Regions from separate parts of the Homo sapiens genome. Here region 1 is linked to region 2. Evidence: fine-mapped expression QTL. A gene starts in region 2. The other region holds a variant in brackets. All regions are shown on one strand. Distances are between the middles of the regions.

What was found. PIP is the estimated chance that this variant, and not a neighbour inherited with it, causes the effect.
Region 1: its variant is fine-mapped to the expression of TFPT in whole blood (INTERVAL, PIP 0.93).

The regions. Positions count from the first base shown.
Region 1 is chr19:54,043,280-54,051,513 of GRCh38, reverse strand. VSTM1 (V-set and transmembrane domain containing 1) reads left to right here. Exons shown (of 9, transcript NM_198481.4): 4 at 66-104. Among named protein-coding and RNA genes, the nearest start is that of VSTM1, 16 kb to the left of the region's middle. The variant C/T (reference allele first, on the strand shown) is at 3,486.
Region 2 is chr19:54,111,010-54,119,382 of GRCh38, reverse strand. It overlaps TFPT (TCF3 fusion partner), which reads left to right and starts at 3,726. Exons shown (of 6, transcript NM_013342.4): 1 at 3,726-4,136; 2 at 4,683-4,941. The coding sequence starts at 4,114. It overlaps PRPF31 (pre-mRNA processing factor 31), which reads right to left and starts at 3,629. Exons shown (of 14, transcript NM_015629.4): 1 at 3,586-3,629; 2 at 928-1,112; 3 at 750-810. The coding sequence starts at 1,104. RefSeq lists an enhancer at 4,567-5,440.

The DNA of each region.
Region 1 (8,234 bases), 68 kb after region 2:
GGACTCCTGTCCCCAAGGTTCCTGTATGATTAGTGTAATTCCTTTTCTTCCCTCCTATTTTCTAGATAAACACGATGAACTTGAAGCTCCCTCAATGAAAACAGGTAAGATAATTAGAAAGGAGATGTTTTTCCCAATGAGATCTGCTTCATGATCACCTTTGCTTAAAGTGCACAAGGAGAACTTTATTTATTTGTTTGTTTGTTTGTTTGTTTGTTTTTTGAGATAGAGTCTCGCTTTGTCACCAAGGCTGGAGTACAGTGGCGCAATCTCAGCTCACTGCAACCTTCGCCTCCCGGATTCAAGCAATTTTCCTGCCTCAGCCTCCCGAATAGCTGGGACTACAGGCACGCACCACCACACCCAGCTAATTTTTGTATTTTTAGTAGAGACGGGGTTTCACCATGTTGGCCAGGCTGGTCTCGAACTCCTGACCTTGTGATCTGCCCGCCTCAGCCTCCCAAAGTGCTGGGATTACAGGCGTGAGCCACCGCACACGGCCTATTTATTTTTTTGAGAAAGAGTCTTGTTCTGTCCCCCAGGGTGGCGTGAAGTGGCACAATCTCAGCTCACTGCAACCTCCACTTCCTGGGTTCTGGGTTCAAGCAATTCTCCTGCCTCGGCCTCCCGAATAGCTGGGATTACAGGCACCCACCACCATATCCAGCTCAGTTTTGTTTTTTGTTTTTTGTTTTTAGTAGAGATGGGGTTTCACCATGTTGGCCAGGCTGGTATCAAACTCCTGACCTCAAGCAATTCCCCCGCCTCGGCCTCTCAAAGTGTTGGGATTACAGGCATGAGCCACCGCACCCGGCCTAGAAGAACTTTAAAGCCCATTTTCTCAATGTTATTGGGGAAACTGCTGTGTTTTGGGGGGTGGAGGATGAGGGGAGATAACCTCTAAAGTGCTTCCGGGTTCTGAAGAAGCTGGTGTGTAAAACAGCACAGAGTGCGTTGTTTGCCATATGACATGATGAAAAACTAGGGTGGGATTTGGGGAATAATGGGGGTGAATTTTTCAGTGACCCATTTGGGGAGTAGGACCAGGACCTACGCAGAGTAGGTACTTCAGGAATATATATAATCAAGAGTTTGTTATAACTCTAAAATTCTCAAAAATAGGTGAATATTGAATTTTTTTTCTAATGTTGCTTATTCATTAACAATTGACTAAGATTCTGTCCTCAGAGTTTCTCATAAAAATTAGAGCTTTTGGGCCAGGCGAGGTGGCTCACATCTGTAATCCCAGCACTTTGGGAGGCCGAGGTGGGCGGATCACCTGAGGTCAGGAGTTCGAAACCAGCCTGGGCAACATGGTGAAACCCTGTCTCTACTAAAAATACAAAAATTTGCTGGGCATTGTGGTGGGCGCCTGTATTCCCAGCTACTCAAGTGACTGAGGCAGGAGAATTGCTTGAACCTGGGAGGCAGAGGTTGCAGTGAGCCGAGATTACACCACTGCCCTCCAGCCTGGGCAACAGAGTGAGACTCTGTCTCCAAAAAAAAAAAAAAAAAAAAAAAATTAAAAAGTTAGAGCTTTTGGCAGCATTCGGCTGAAACAGGAACTCATCCAGACTTTAAGGGCCAAATGCAGAATATAAATTGGCATCTAGATGCTTAATCATCCTTCCTTTCAGCAAGTCATAATCTTCCTGCAACCTACTCCAAAGAGCCAAAGTTGCTGAAGGTTGTTGCTAGCAGTCTGTGCTGGTATAATCGGTTTTCAAAAAGGTATCCTCCAAAGTGTTCTTGCAAGATAACTATTTGAAACGTTTTTATTCCATGATAGTAGGCTTGGGAAATGTCTGCTACCCTAGCACTACGAACACAATTCACGTCAGGAACGTTTTCTGAGAAAGATATGAAATCTAATGGGAGAGAGGAACACAGAAGTATCAGAAACGAGGTGGGAGATCTAGTGAGGTGTGAGGGGGAGGAGGAAGAGAAGCTTTTCTATTTTGAGCTCTTGTATCATTTATTTTCTTTCTTTTTTTATTGATATATAATTCACAGTCCAAAAATTCACCCTTGTAAAGTGTCCAATTCACTGGCATTTTGTATCTTCATGAGGTAGTATAACCATCACCACTACATAATTCCAGAACATTCTCATCACCCTAAAAGAAAATCTTGTACCCATTAAGCAGTCACTCCTCATTTCCCACTTTCCCACCAGGCCCTTCCAACCATTCATATGCTTCTCTGTGTCTATGATTTTGTCTATTCTGGACATTTTGTGTAAGTGGATTCATACACTATGTGATCCTTTGTGACTAGCTCCTTTCTCTTTAGCATAATGTTTTCAAAGTTTGTCTGTACTGTAGCATGCATCAATGTTTCATTTCTTGTCATGGTGAAAAGCATCGTATTGTATGGATAGACCACATTTTGCTTATCCATTCTTTTTTTTGTTTTTGTTTTTGTTTTTTTGAGACGGAGTCTTGCTCTGTCGCCCAGGCTGGAGTGCAGTGGCACAATCTCAGCTCACTGCAACCTCCGCCTCCCAGGTTTAAGTGATTCTTTTGCCTTAACCTCCTGAGTAGCTGGACCTACAGGCGCCCGTCACCATGCCTAGCTAATTTGTGTATTTTTAGTAGAGAGGGGGTTTCACCATGTTGGCTAGGCTGGTCTCGAACTCCTGACCTCAGGTGATCCACACGCCTCAGCTTCCCAAAGTGCTGGGATTACAGACTTGAGCTACTGTGCCTGGCCCCGTTCTTCTTTTGATGGACATTTGTGTTGTCTGCACCTCTTGGCTAAAGCGAGTAATGGTGCTGGAACACTGTGGTAGGAGTATCTGTTTGTCTCCGCGCTGTAAATTATCTTGAGTATGTACCTAGAAGTGGATTTGCTAGGACATATGGTGACTATTATGTTCAACTTTTTGAGGAACTGCCAAATCATTTTCCATTGTGGCTGTATCATGTTATATTCCTTCCAGTAATATATGTGGGTTCCAATATCTCCACATCCTTGTCAACACTTACTTTTCTTTTTTTAAATTATAGCCATCCCAGTGGGTATTATATAATTTCTTAAAATGTACTTTTTGAGTTCAAATTTGTATCATCACAATTCTAAACAGAATAAAATATCTTTGCCGGGCGCAGTGGCTCACGTCTGTAATACCAGGACTTTGGGAAGATGAGGCAGGAGGATCACTTGAGCCCAGGGGTTCAAGACCAGCCTGGACAACTTGGTAAGATCCCATCTCTACAAAAAATACAAAAATTAGCCAGGCGTGGTGGTGTGCACCTGTAGTCCCAGCTACTTGGGAGGCTCAGGCAGAAAGATCGTTTGCGCCCAGGAGGTTGAGGCTTCAGTGAACTGTGATTGCGCCACAGCACTCCAGCCTGGGTGACAGAGCGAGACCCTGTTTCAGTAAATAAATAAAATAAAAGTAAAATATCTGTAAGCACAGGTATGATGTCCCCAGCCTGTATTTATATGCCTAAAACACACTAGAAAACGACTCTATGTTCAAT[C/T]GCAATGTAGAGAATGAAGATGAATTTTATCACACAAGACTTGACTTTCTTTCTGGTGCCTGTGCCTCCATTTATGCCCCGTGTCAGGCTGTATCTTGTTGCTCACGCTGACTTTAGTAGCGTAGCAAGTTATGATTTATTCTGGCAATTTGCAAATACTGATGCAACATTTGGCCAGGATCTGTGGACATCTCAGGGTGAACCCAGTTCAGCTGATTATGGGGTCATATGAAGATGAGAATTTTGCAATAATGTACTTCTCATTTCTAGTGAATTGCTGTGTGAAAGATACCGTAGGCTGGAAAAGGGGAGAACAGAAAGGACAAGGCAAGGCTGCTGTTTCTCTGCTTCCATCTGGGGAAACTGAGAGTCCAGGAGCAGCTGTTCCTGCCCTGTTTTCATAAGTCCTTGGAGATGCACTGATAGAATTGTTGCTTATGGCCAGGCATGGTGGCTTATGTAATCCCAGCACTTTGGGAGGCCAAAGTGGGCAGAACACTTGAGCTCTGGAGTTTGAGACCAGCCTAACCAACATGGTGAAACCTCATCTCTACTAGAAATATAAAAAATTAGCGGGGTGAGGTGGCGGGTGCTTGTAATCCCAGCTCCTTGGGAGGCTGAGGCAGGAGAATTGCTTGAACCCCAGAGGGGGAGGTTCCAAAGCCGAGATTGTACCACTGCACTCCAGCCTGGGAGACAGAGTGAGACTGTCTCAAAAAAAAAAAAATTGTTGCTTTTGAGGGGTTCTCTGATTCAGCTCCACCAGAAGCAGGCTCTTAGACAGCATTAGTGTGAAAGTGACGTTTTATTTTATTTATTATTTATTTAGTTTTGAGACAGAGTTTCGCTCTTGTTGCCCAGGCTGGAGTGCAATGGCGTGATCTTGGCTCACTGCAACCTCCGCCTACCAGGTTCAAGAGATTCTCCTGCCTCAGCCTCCCAAATAGCTGGGATTACAGGCATGCACCACCACACCCAGCTAATATTCTATTTTTAGTAGAGACGGGGTTTCTCCATGTTGGTCAGGCTGGTCTCGAACTCCTGACCTCAGGTGCTCTGCCTGCCTCGACCTCCCAAAGTGCTGGGATTACAGGTGTGAGCCACCACGCCTGGCTTGAAAATTACATTTTAGGGAGTGGGGAAGAAGGGCTGGGAGGAAAATAGATTAAACAAGTGTGGGATATCTGTGTCCCTCAGATGGTATCTTTGGCTCCATCCTGCAGAAAGCAGTGGAGACAGAGAAGGTCGAAGACCAGAGGCTAGGGAGCTGGGGTCCCCACAGCCGTCAGTGGCAGTTTGTCCCGGGCATGTAAATTCCAAGGCATTTGGAGTTCTCCCAGGCAGTCCCCCAAAGAAGAGATACAAATGTTCACTTTGGAAAGGGAAAGAAGCCACGATCTAGAATGCATAAAAATGGGAAAGGGATCTGGGGAACATGGGTTGAGGAACATTGACAGAATCTATTACAGAGAGAGATGGGTGTAGGTGGAATATTGGGTGAAAAAAAATCATCATTATACCTACAATCCCATTATCCGACACAATGAGTCAGTTTCTAGACTGAGCGCTTTAAAGCCAGGATTTTTCATCATTACCTAACTCTTCAAGTTAGATATTATTAGCTCTCTGCCCCCTCCTTATATTTAACCAAAAAATAACGTATTCCAGAAAGGGAAGGGAACATTTACAAAGTCAGGAGGTAGGAGACCCAGTACTAGAACTCAAATATGTCTTGTTTCAAACTCCCCACTCCTTTTGCTGCTCCCTGATGATCAGCTCAGAAAGAACCTTATTTCAGGGAGGGGGATAGATAGATAATTAGATGTGATAGATAATAGGCAAGTAGGCAGATAAATAGATAACTAGATATGATAGATTAGATAGATACATAGATGATAGGTAGATAAGTAGCTAGATACGATGGACAGATTAGATAGATAGACAGATGATAGGTAAGTAGGTAGATAGATAACTAGATACAACAGGTTAGATAAGTAAGTAGATAGATAACTAGATATGATAGATTAGATAGATAAATAGACGATAGGTAAGTAGGTAGATAGATACAGATAGATTAGCTAGCTAGCTAGATGATAGATAACTAGATATAATAGATAAGATAGATGATTAGATAGACAGATAATTAGATATGATTGATAGATACATTAGATAGATGATAGATTAGATAGATAGATGATAGGTAACTAGGTAGCTAGATAAAGCTAGCTAGATAGATAGATAGATATACAGATACACAGATAGATACATAGATACCTAGATAGGTGATAGAGTTGCAAGATAGAAAAATTAGATAAGTAGGTGGATAGATAGATAGATAACTAGATAGAATAGATTAAATAGATAATAGTAGGTGAATAGACAGATACATACAGATGATAGATGATAGATGATAGATAACTGGTTATGATTGATAGATACATTAGATAGATGATAGATTTGGTAACTAGATGATAGGTAAGTCGGTAGATAGATAAGTGATAATTAGATATGATAGGATGGATAGATTAGACAGACAGCAGGTAAGCAGGTGGATAGACAGATAAAGATAGATACATAGATGCCTAGATAAGTGATAGATTAACAAGATAGAAAAATTAGACAGACAGATAGTTAATTACATATGATAGGATAGATAGATTGGATAGGTGATAGGCAAGTAGGTAGATAGATAAATCATAATTAGATAGGACGGATAGATTGGATAGATGATAGGTAAGTAGGTACAGAGACAGATAAAGATAGATAGGTAGATAGATAATAGATACCTAGACAGATGGTAGATAGATTAGCGAGATAGATAAATTAGATAGGTAATTCTCTATATATAGATATGTAGAAATGCCAATGCAAACATAGCGAACCAAGTAGGGGAAGCGTCTGGATGGGAGACCCTCTGTTGGTGCAGAGGACCAGGCGTGTGAAGCATCTCAGACTTGGCTCTGTAATGTGACCACAGATCATTGCACACCTAGGAAAAATTCTCAGACTCAAAGCACACTAACAAAGATAGCGGGGGTCTTGGTGAAGCCCCTTTCTGGGGCCTCACTTCTATAGTTGCTCAACTTTTTTCCTTAATCACGTTTCTGCTACTTACTCCTTAAAGTCTCACGACTTGTGTTTCTTGAATCTAAAGTGCCAAGAAAAACAAAAAACGGGGGGGAACTGCATGGACTCTGTCGCCTAGCTTTAGTAACAGGTTGCTCTCTCTTCCTCAACGCTGTGAGCTTTGGACACAACCCTTGCTGTAATCCCAGGAGTCACACGGGAATGCATGCCCTTCACCAGTGGGAGGGAAATAATTGTACTACCTTGCAGGGTTGTTGTTAAGACTTTAAAACGCTATGATGTAGACTTGCATGGCAATATTGCTCAAGAACTAGTTTTTTTTGTTTTGTTTTGTTTTTGTTTTTTAATTGGTAGAAATTTTATCTCCTGAGAGGGATGCTTTTTTGAGTTGGAGTCTTGGTCAGTTGAGTGTATGATGCAGTGATGCGATCTCGGCTCACTGCAACCTCCGCCTCCCAGGTTCAAGCAATTCTCTTCTCTCAGCCTCCTGAGTAGCTGGGACTACAGGCGTGCGCCACCATGCCCAGCTTATTTTTTATATTTTCAGTAGAGACAGGGTTTCACCATGTTGGCCAGGCTGGTCTCGAACTCCAGACCTCAAGTGATCCACCTACTTCACTCTCCCAAAGTGCCAGGATTACAGGCGTGAGCCACCGTGCCCGGCCACTGGTCATTCTTTTCTACCCTGCTCTAACCCTGTTCTTATTAGGAATCCTCCCTGAATTCTCCCAGCTGATCCCTTGTTCTGTGTCTTGGGGAATCATGTCTCCTTCAGAGAGCCCCACCCCTCCCCACTCTAAACGCCTTCCATGCCCGTGTCACTGCTGTTCATTACCTGGCATCAACGAGCTCATTGAAGTGTGTTTGAAGTTGGCTGGGCGTGGTGGTCTGTACTCCCAGCTACCCTGGAGGCCGAGTGAGGAGGACCACTTGAGCCCAGGAATTCGAGTATGATCACACCACTGCACTCTAGCCTGGGCAACAATGGGAACCCATTGGCACATCTGGGATTGGCATCCTGAGCTCCCATCTGTGACCTCCCTCCTCTCCCCTCCTCTCCCCTCCATTGCCCTCACCCTCTCCCCATAATCTTCACATCCCGTCCTTTCACATCTCTCTCTCTCCTTTAAAAAAAGAAAAAGGAAATATGTTTGAAGTTAAGAGCTGAGATCATGTCTGTGTTAGCCAGGGTTTTCCAGAAAAACAGAACCAATAGAACATATAGATATAAGCTGGGTGTGGTGGCTCACGCCTGTAATCCCAGCACTTTGGGAGGCCGAGGCAGGCAGATTGCCTGAGGTCAGTAGTTCAAGACCAGCGTGGCCAACATGGCGAAACCCCGTCTCTACTAAAAATACAAAAATTAGCCGGGCGTGATGGTGGGCACCTGTAATCCCAGCTACTCAGGAGGCTAAGGCAGGAGAATTGCTTGAACCCGGGAGGCGGAGCTTGCAGTGAGCCAAGATTGCACTATTGCACTCCAGCCTGGACGATAAGAGTGAGACTTTGTCTCAAAAAAAAAAAAGAGAACATATACATGTATATACATATATGGAGAGAGAGATTGATTTTAATGGATTGGTTCACGTGATTGTGGGGAGCTGGCAAGTCTGAAATCTGCAGGGCAGGCAGGCAGGGGATCCAGGGGAGACTTGATATTGC
Region 2 (8,373 bases):
TGAGACGGAGTCTTGCTCTGTCGCCCAGGCTGGAGTGCAGTGGCACGATCTCGGCTCACTGCAAGCTCCGCCTCCCAGGTTCACGCCATTCTCCCGCCTCAGCCTCCTGAGTAGCTGGGACTACAGGCACCCGCCACCACGCCTGGCTAATTTTTTGTATTTTTAGTAGAGACGGGGTGTCACCGTGTTAGCCAGGATGGTCTCGATCTCCTGAACTCATGATCCACCTGCCTCCGCCTCCCAAAGTGCTGGGATTACAGGCGTGAGCCACGGCGCCCGGCCTTAGGTGGTTCCTAAATAATTATATATCTATTTTTATACAGTGACTTTGTCTTTGCCAAATGATACCAGTTTTCCATTCATGGTAGCAATTTGCTTCCTTCTCAGATAAATTTAAGAAAAAAAGTCCTAGACTCAAAGAATATGTTAAGCAAATAATAGGATAAGCGGCTTATAGATGTGGCAAAAACCCTGTAACCGGTCATGTGAATCAGTGAAGTCTGGGAAACCTCAAGCTGAGTCCTATCATGATCAGTAAGCTCAGCACACAGGAAGGACTTAAGAAGCATGAGCTTTACAATGCAATATATATTTAGTGGAAAAGGGAACGGGTTGGGGTGAAACAAAAAAAAAAGAAGGCTCTGGAAAAGGCTGAGAAGGAGATATACCCAGCCACAAGCAGCCAGGGAGCCAGGGGGCCTGGCAGGAGAGACAGGAGATGGGGAGGGGCACAGAGTGGGAGGAAGCACCTTCTGAAGCTTTGGCTTGCTTGCTGATATACTCCTCAATCTTCATCATAATCTCAGCAAACTGTAGGAAAGGAGAAGACAGTCAGAATCCAGCACTCTTCAAAAAGAAGCCTGTATCACCCCCTTCTGGGAGATTCTGTCTAGAGCCCCCTGCTAGGAACACCTCTTGTCCTCTTACCATCTTACTATCCCATAGCTTGGCGATGGTCTTGACTGAATCCCCGGAAAGATCCAGCTGTGTCTCCTCCTGCACATCCTCGATCGCTGGCTCCTCTTCTTCCTCCCCATAGCTTCCTCCTTCCTCCTCTTCTGCTGCCTCTTCGAGATCAGCTAAGAGCTCATCTGCCAGAGACATCCCGAGGCCTGGGGAGGGACAGCAGCGTTCCCTAAAAACTTGCCCCGACAAAGTCCCTCCTTATTACTGAGCGATGATTCTCCCCCAGAAGACCCTGGTCCTTCTTTATCAACCCCACTAGCATGCAGGCTCCACGACAACAGGTGCTTTAGTTTGTTTTGTTCACTGGCGAGTCTCCAGCTCCGACCTGTGCAAGACGCAGCACACCCCTATGACCGCCACCTTGCTAAGACTTACTGGAACCAAGTGGTGTAGATTCCAAATGCATTTGCAAACTTTCTTATTCCTTTCTTGCCTTTAGCCTTGAAAACATACTTTGAAATTCTTTGTTTCCCTCCTTTCCCACTAGATACTGTCTTGCACTGCTGGCTTATCTATGTGCTTACTTAGAAGTTCCAGGGGCTAATCTTTATTTATTTATTTTTTAAAGATGGAGTCTGGCTCTGACACCCAGGTTGGAGTGCAGTGGCGCAGTCTTGGCTCACTTGCAACCTCCACCTCCTGGGTTCAAGCGATTCTCCTGCCTCAGCCTCCTGAGTAGCTGGGACTACAGGCACCTGCCACCATGCCCAGCTAATTTTTTTTTTTTTTTTTTGTAGAGTCAAGGTTTCACTATGTAAGCCAGGCTGGTCTTGAACTCTTGACCTCAAGTGAGCGACCCACCTTGGCCTCCCAAACTGTTGGGATTACAGGCGTAAGCCACCGCGCCTCGCCGCAGGGGCTAATCTTGAAACAAACTAGGTATGGAAACCCAGCTGCAAAACTCCAGAGATCACCTCAAGGCGATCAATCTACAACGTGGCCATTGTTGACTTGACACCAGCCCATGCTCCAGGTGGCCCGTGACTCAAGACAGCCTTCGGAGCAAGACACACATACCTTGTACCCAGCACCACTCCTGTATGCCTCCCATTCAAAGTTCCCCTTTTTAAGCCCCTCTCCCCAGCCTAAAGCTTGAAATGGTCTTCTAAAGACATTAGCTTGGCCATTTCTCATCTGCGAGCATTTGATCAGTAAAGCTGCTTTACTTTCACCACCCCCCACTTCCTCTGCCTCTGAGTAGCAGAAACTTGAGTTGGTTACATTATCGGTCTCTTCCCGCCTCCAGGTCTTTGTACAGGAGTCCCTTGTAACTAAAGTGGCCCTTTCCTTCACTTTGTTTTTTCTTTTCTTTTCTTTTTTTTGAGACCATGTCTTGCTCTGTCACCTAGGCTGCAGTGCAGTGGCGCCATCATAGCTCACGGCAGCCTCGATCACCTGGGCTCAAGCGATTCTCCCGCCTCAGCCTCCCGATAGCTGAGATGACAGGCACGCACCAGCACGCCCGGCTAATTTTTAAATTTTTCTGTAGAGACAGGGTCTCACTGTGTTGCTCAGGCTGGTCTCAAACTCCTGGGCTCAAGCGATCCTTTCGCCTGGGCCACCCAAAGTGCTGGGATTACAGGAGTGAGCCATGGCGTCTGGCTCTCCTCACTTCTTAGTAGCCCAGCATCTCCTCAGCCTTCAGCTCTCACGTTCCACCTCCCTGACCCACACGCCCCACTCTAGACTACAGGAGGTTGCTTTGTGATAACGTGTCCCGCACGCTCTGCGTGTCTACAGTAAGGCACTTCACACATTTGTGATTAATGAAGTAATTATTTGATAAAGCCTGTCTGCCAGGCATCAACCAAAGCTCTAAGAGGGTAGCGAACAATTTTTGCTCCTTCCACATCCCCAGGGCCACACCATGGTAGGCGCATATTAAGACTTTTGGGTAAACAGGCTGTAAAAGGCCGGGAGCGGTGGCTCATGCCTGTAATCCCAGCACTTTGGGAGGCCCAGGCGGGTGGATCATCTGAGGTCAGGAGTTGGAGACCAGCCTGGCCAACATAGTGAAACCCCGTCTCTACTAAAAATACAAAAAACTAGCCGGGCGTGGTGGTGCGCGCCTGTAATCCCAGCTACTCGGGAGGCTGAGGCAGGAGAATCGCTTGAATCCGGGAGGCGGAGGTTGCAGTGAACCGAGATCGCGCCACTGCACTCCAGCCTGGGCAACAAGAGCGAAACTCCGTCTCAGACAAAACAAACAAACAACTGGCCAGGCGCGGTGGATCATGCCTGTAATCACAGCACTTTGGGAGGCCGAGGCGGGCGGATCACGAGATCAGGAGTTCGAGACCAGCCTGACCAACATGGGGAAACCCCGTCTCTACTAAAAATACAAAAATTAGTCAGGGGTGGTGGCGGGCGCCTGTAATCCCAGCTACTCTGGAGGCTGAGGCAGAAGAATCGTTTGAACCCGGGAGACGGAGGTTGCAATGAGCCGAGATCGCGCCACTGCTCTCCAACCTGGGCAACAGAACGAGACTCCGTCTCAAAACAAACAAACAACAAAAAAACAAAAACCAAGCTGTAAAGACCCGCCTTTTTCCTCACACACTTCTTCTCCCAGACCCAGGAGCCCAGCCTCCCGCTCCCCGTGGTCCCCATCACACTCACCTCTCCTCTCCGCGCACCACTGTTTCTAGCGTTAGTCGCTCACCGATGACGTCTCACTCTCGCGCCGTTATAGAGGCAAAGCTACTCTCTGATTGGTCCCCGCTCGCGATGTTCCTGGCCGCATTTGAAACAACAACTTTATTAGCACCTGGCACTAGGCGGAGAGAGGCGGTAAGCCGCGAGGAGGAAAGGGACTCACGTCCCGCTGTGGACCGATCCTGCTAAGCAGAGAATCGCTGTGGCCGGACGACGGGGCGTCGAGACAAGAAGAAAGACGTTGGCAACTCAGAGGACTGGTTGCGGCGTTAGACAAGAAAGCAAGGCCTTTAAGCAGGGATTCGGGGTGGACGTGGGGGTGGGCCGAAGCGAAGCCGGAAACAGGAAACTACAACTCCCACAAGGCCTAGGGCCACGTCCCGCCGTCCTCGGCTGCTGAGCCTGATGGGACAAGTAGTTTTGCGAACGGCTTAACCTACAGATTGAAGAGGTCGGAAGCTCTGAGGCCCGGGGCTTCCGGAGGTCGCGGAGATGGAATTGGAGCAGAGAGAAGGGTATGTGGCTGAGCCCTTGTGAAAAAGTGCGAATCCCAGAAAACAGTGCAGCTGCATTGTGTGCAACCATATGAGCTTTTACGCTGAGGTCTGATGGGGGTTGTAGTTCATGCAACTGCTTTACCTTAGAACCCTTTTATGGACTGGGGTCATCCTGAGGGAGGAGAAGGTTAGGGGTTTGGACTGCTGGATCTGACAGACTAGGAGGTTGGAAGCCAGGACTCTTGCGTCTGGTTGAGGGTTGGGGCTTGGACTCCCTGGGTCCTTGGAGAGAAAAAGTCTGGAGGTCTGGACTCTTGCATCCTGGGAGGAGGGGGTCAGGGCTTGAACCCTGTGGGTGCTGCGAAGGGTGGGTTGCGGACTTGGACTTCTGGGTCTGAGGGAGGAGGGCTGGGAGCTGGATTCTACGGTCTGAGGGAGGAGGGGCTGGGGGCCTGGATTCTAGGATCTCAGGGAGGAGGGGTTGGGGTCTGGGCTCCTGGTTCAGTGGGAGAAGGGGCTGGGGGTCCAGGATCCAGGGCCCCTGAGCCTTTCCCTGCCTCTCAGGACCATGGCAGCCGTGGGCTTTGAGGAGTTCTCAGCGCCGCCAGGCTCAGAGTTGGCGTTGCCTCCCCTATTTGGTGGCCACATCCTGGAGAGCGAGCTGGAGACGGAAGTGGAGTTTGTGTCAGGTGGTCTGGGCGGCTCAGGGCTCCGGGAGCGAGATGAAGAGGAAGAGGCAGCCCGGGGTCGGCGGCGGCGCCAGCGGGAATTAAATCGCAGAAAGTACCAGGCACTAGGTCGGCGCTGCCGGGAGATCGAGCAGGTAGGTGAGTGCGGATCCCCCGGTTTTGGGGTCCCCTGGCCTAAACTACCGCCCCCCGCAATCTCTGCCTTTCCACATGCCCAGCCTTTCTTGGCTTGCTGATATATTCAGTCATTTAGCTTATATATTCAGTCATTTAGCATGCATTATGTGTCTGGCCCTGTGCCGGGCCCCTGGAAGGGCCATCTCCCGTGGAGCTTCCCTGACAACGCAGATGGGTTCTCTGATGTCTCCCGGGGGCCTCTCAATGCGTGGCACCGCTCACAGGTGAAAGCCCAAGCTCTTCACATCTCCCATACCCCTGCCAGGATTCACTCCTCTCGACTCATTCATTCCGCCTCTTGAGTGTCTCTGGACCCTTCTCCTCTCCTCCATCCCTATGGCTGCCATTGCAAACTCCAGCTGTCTGGGCTGAATGACTGCAATAGCCTCCTTGCTGAGAATAAGGATGGGCTGGGCATGGTGGCTCACGCTTGTAATCCTAGCACTGGGAGGCTGAGGCAGGCGGATCACCTGAGGTTAGGAGTTCGAGACCAGCCTGGCCAACATGGTGAAACCCCATCTCTACTAAAATACAAAAAAATTAGCCAGGTGTGGTGGTGCGCACCTGTAGTCGCAGCTACTAGGGAGGCTGAGGCATGAGAATTGCTTGAACCCGGAAGGCGGAGGTTGCAGTGAGCCAAGATCATGCTGCTGTACTCCAGCCTGGGTGACAGAGTGAGACTCCGTCTCAAAATCAATCAATCAATCAATGAGGATTAAACAGCAGGCAGGGCTCAGATCTTGGCAGGCCAGGAACACCAGGACAAGAAGTCTGGATATTTTTTTTTCCTTGAGAGTGAAGGAGCCACTGAAGGGTTTCAAATGGGGGAGGAACAGCATCAGGTCTGGATGCCTGAAACTCTGAAGACAGTTGTATTAGTCTGCTTGGACTCCCAGAACTTATCACAAATAGGGTCCCTCAAGCACAGAAATTCCTGTCTGACAGTTCTGGAGGCTAGACATCCAAGGCAAGGTGTCGACAGGGTTGTGAGAATCTTCCAGGCCTCTCCCCTGGCTTCTGGAGGTTTCTGGCAGTCATTGGCACGTACAAACATCACCCTGATCTCCGCCTTCATCTTCACATTGCTGCTCCCTGTGTGTGTGTCTGTGTCCCAATTTACCCTTTTTATAAGGACTCCAGTCATACTGGATTAGGGCCCACCCACTGGCTTCATTTGAACTTGATTACTTTTGTAACGACACTGTCTCCATATAAGGTGATCCTGAGGTACTGGGGGTTAAAGCCTCAACACCCTCTTTTGGGGGAAATAATTCAACTTTTTTTTTTTTTTTTTTTTTTTTTTTTGAGGTGGAGTCTCGCTCTTGTCTCCCAGGCTGGAGTGCAATGGCACCATCTCAGCTCACTGTAACCTCCACCTCCTGGGTTCAAGTGATTCTCCTGACTCAGCCTCCCTAGTAGCTGGGATTACAGGCGCCCGCCACCACACCCAGCTAATTTTTCTATTTTTAGTAGAGACAGGGTTTCACCATGTTGGTCAGGCTGGTCTCAAACTCCTGACCTCAGGTGATCTGCCCACCTCAGCCTCCCAAGGTGCTGGGATTACAGGCTTGAGCCACCACGCCTGGCCTTCAACTCTTTTTCTCTTTCTTGAGACAGGTTCTCACTTTGTCACCAAAGCTGGAGTGCAGTGGCGCAATCTCAGCTCATTGCAGCCTCAGTCTCCCAGGTTCAAGCAGTCCTCCTGCCTCAGCCCCCAAAATAGCTGGGACTACAGGCACACACCACCACACCTGGCTAATTTTTGTACTTTTTGTAGAGATGGGGTTTTGCCATGTTGCCCAGGCTGGTCTTGAACTCCTGACCTCAAGTGATCCACTCGCCTTGACCTCCCAAAATGCTAGGATTACAGGCATGAGCCACCACATCTGGCCTCAATTCTTAATGACAGTATTGGGGAGTTCTGTAAGGAGGAAGGCTAGAGGCCAGGGGCATATTCCAAACCCTGTTTAACAGACAGACACCAAGGCCCAAACGGACTCAACTGGAGCCTCTGCCATTAATCCACCCCCAGGAATAGATTACTACTATTTTACAAGTATAGAAAATCAAGGCTCAGAGAGGTTAAGTAATGCACCCAAGCTCAGAGCTCAGCAGTGGCAGATCTGAGATTTTTTTTTTTTTTTTGAGACAGGGTCTTTCTCTGTTGCCCAGGCTGGAGTGCAGTGGCATGACTGTGGCTCACTGCAGCCCCAACATCCTGGACTCTAGCAATCTCAGCCTCCGAAGGAGCTGGGACTACAGCCACCAAGCCCAGCTAATTTTTTTGGTTAGTTTTTGAGTGTTGGGGTCTCACTCTGTTGCCCAGGCTGGTGTCGAACTCCTGGCCTCTCAAAGTGCTGGGATTATAGGCATGAGCCACTGTGCCAAGCCAGAGCCAAAACTTGAACTCTTTTTTTTTAGATGGATTTTCGCTCTTGTTGTCCAGGCTGGAGTGCAATGCTGCAATCTCAGCTCACTGCAACCTCCGCCTCCTGGGTTCAAGCGATTCTCCTGCCTCAGCCTCCCGAGTAGCTGGGATTACAGGCATGCGCCACTACACCTGGCTAATTTTGTATTTTTAGTAGAGACAGGGTTTCACCACGTTAGGCTGGTCTCAAACTCCTGACCTCAGGTGATCCGCTCGCCTTGGCCTCTGAAAGTGCTGGGATTACAAGCGTGAGCCACCGTGCCTGGCACTTTTTTTTTTTTTTTTTCTTTTGAGACAGAGTCTTACTCTGTCACCCAGGCTGGAGGGCAGTGGTGTGATCTCGGCTCACTGCAACCTCCAGCTCCTGGGTTCAAGCGATTCTCCTGCCTCAGCCTCCTGAGAAACTGGGATTACAGGCATGCGCCACCATACCCAGCTAATTTTTGTATTTTTCTTTTTTTTTTTTTTTTTTTAGTAGAGATGAGGTCTCATCATGTTGGCCGGGCTGGTCTGCAACTCCCGACCTCAAACTCTTGAGTAGCTGAGATTACAGGCATGTGCCACAACATCCGGCCAATTTTTGTATCTTTAGTAGAGACGGGGTTTCACCATGTTGGCCAGGCTGGTCTTGAACTCCTGACCTCAAGTGATCTGCCCGCCCCGGCCTCCCAAAGTGCTGGGATTACAGGCGTGAGCCACTGTGCCCCGCCCGGAACTCAGGTCTTTCTGACCCAGGAGCAGCACCTGCTTCAGCCACTGTCTTTGGGTCCCTGTTTGGCTGAGTCACATCTCTCCCTCCATGTCTAGGCTGGAGTCCTCAGAAGCTGCGTGCAGGGCTGTCCCCTCAGCCTGGCATACTTTCCTCCTGTCACCCCTTTGTCTCCTCCTTATTCAAGTCTGGGCCCACGGGCCTTCTCTGCAGGTCGTAACTAAAGTCGCACCTCCTGCCCTAACCTCCAGC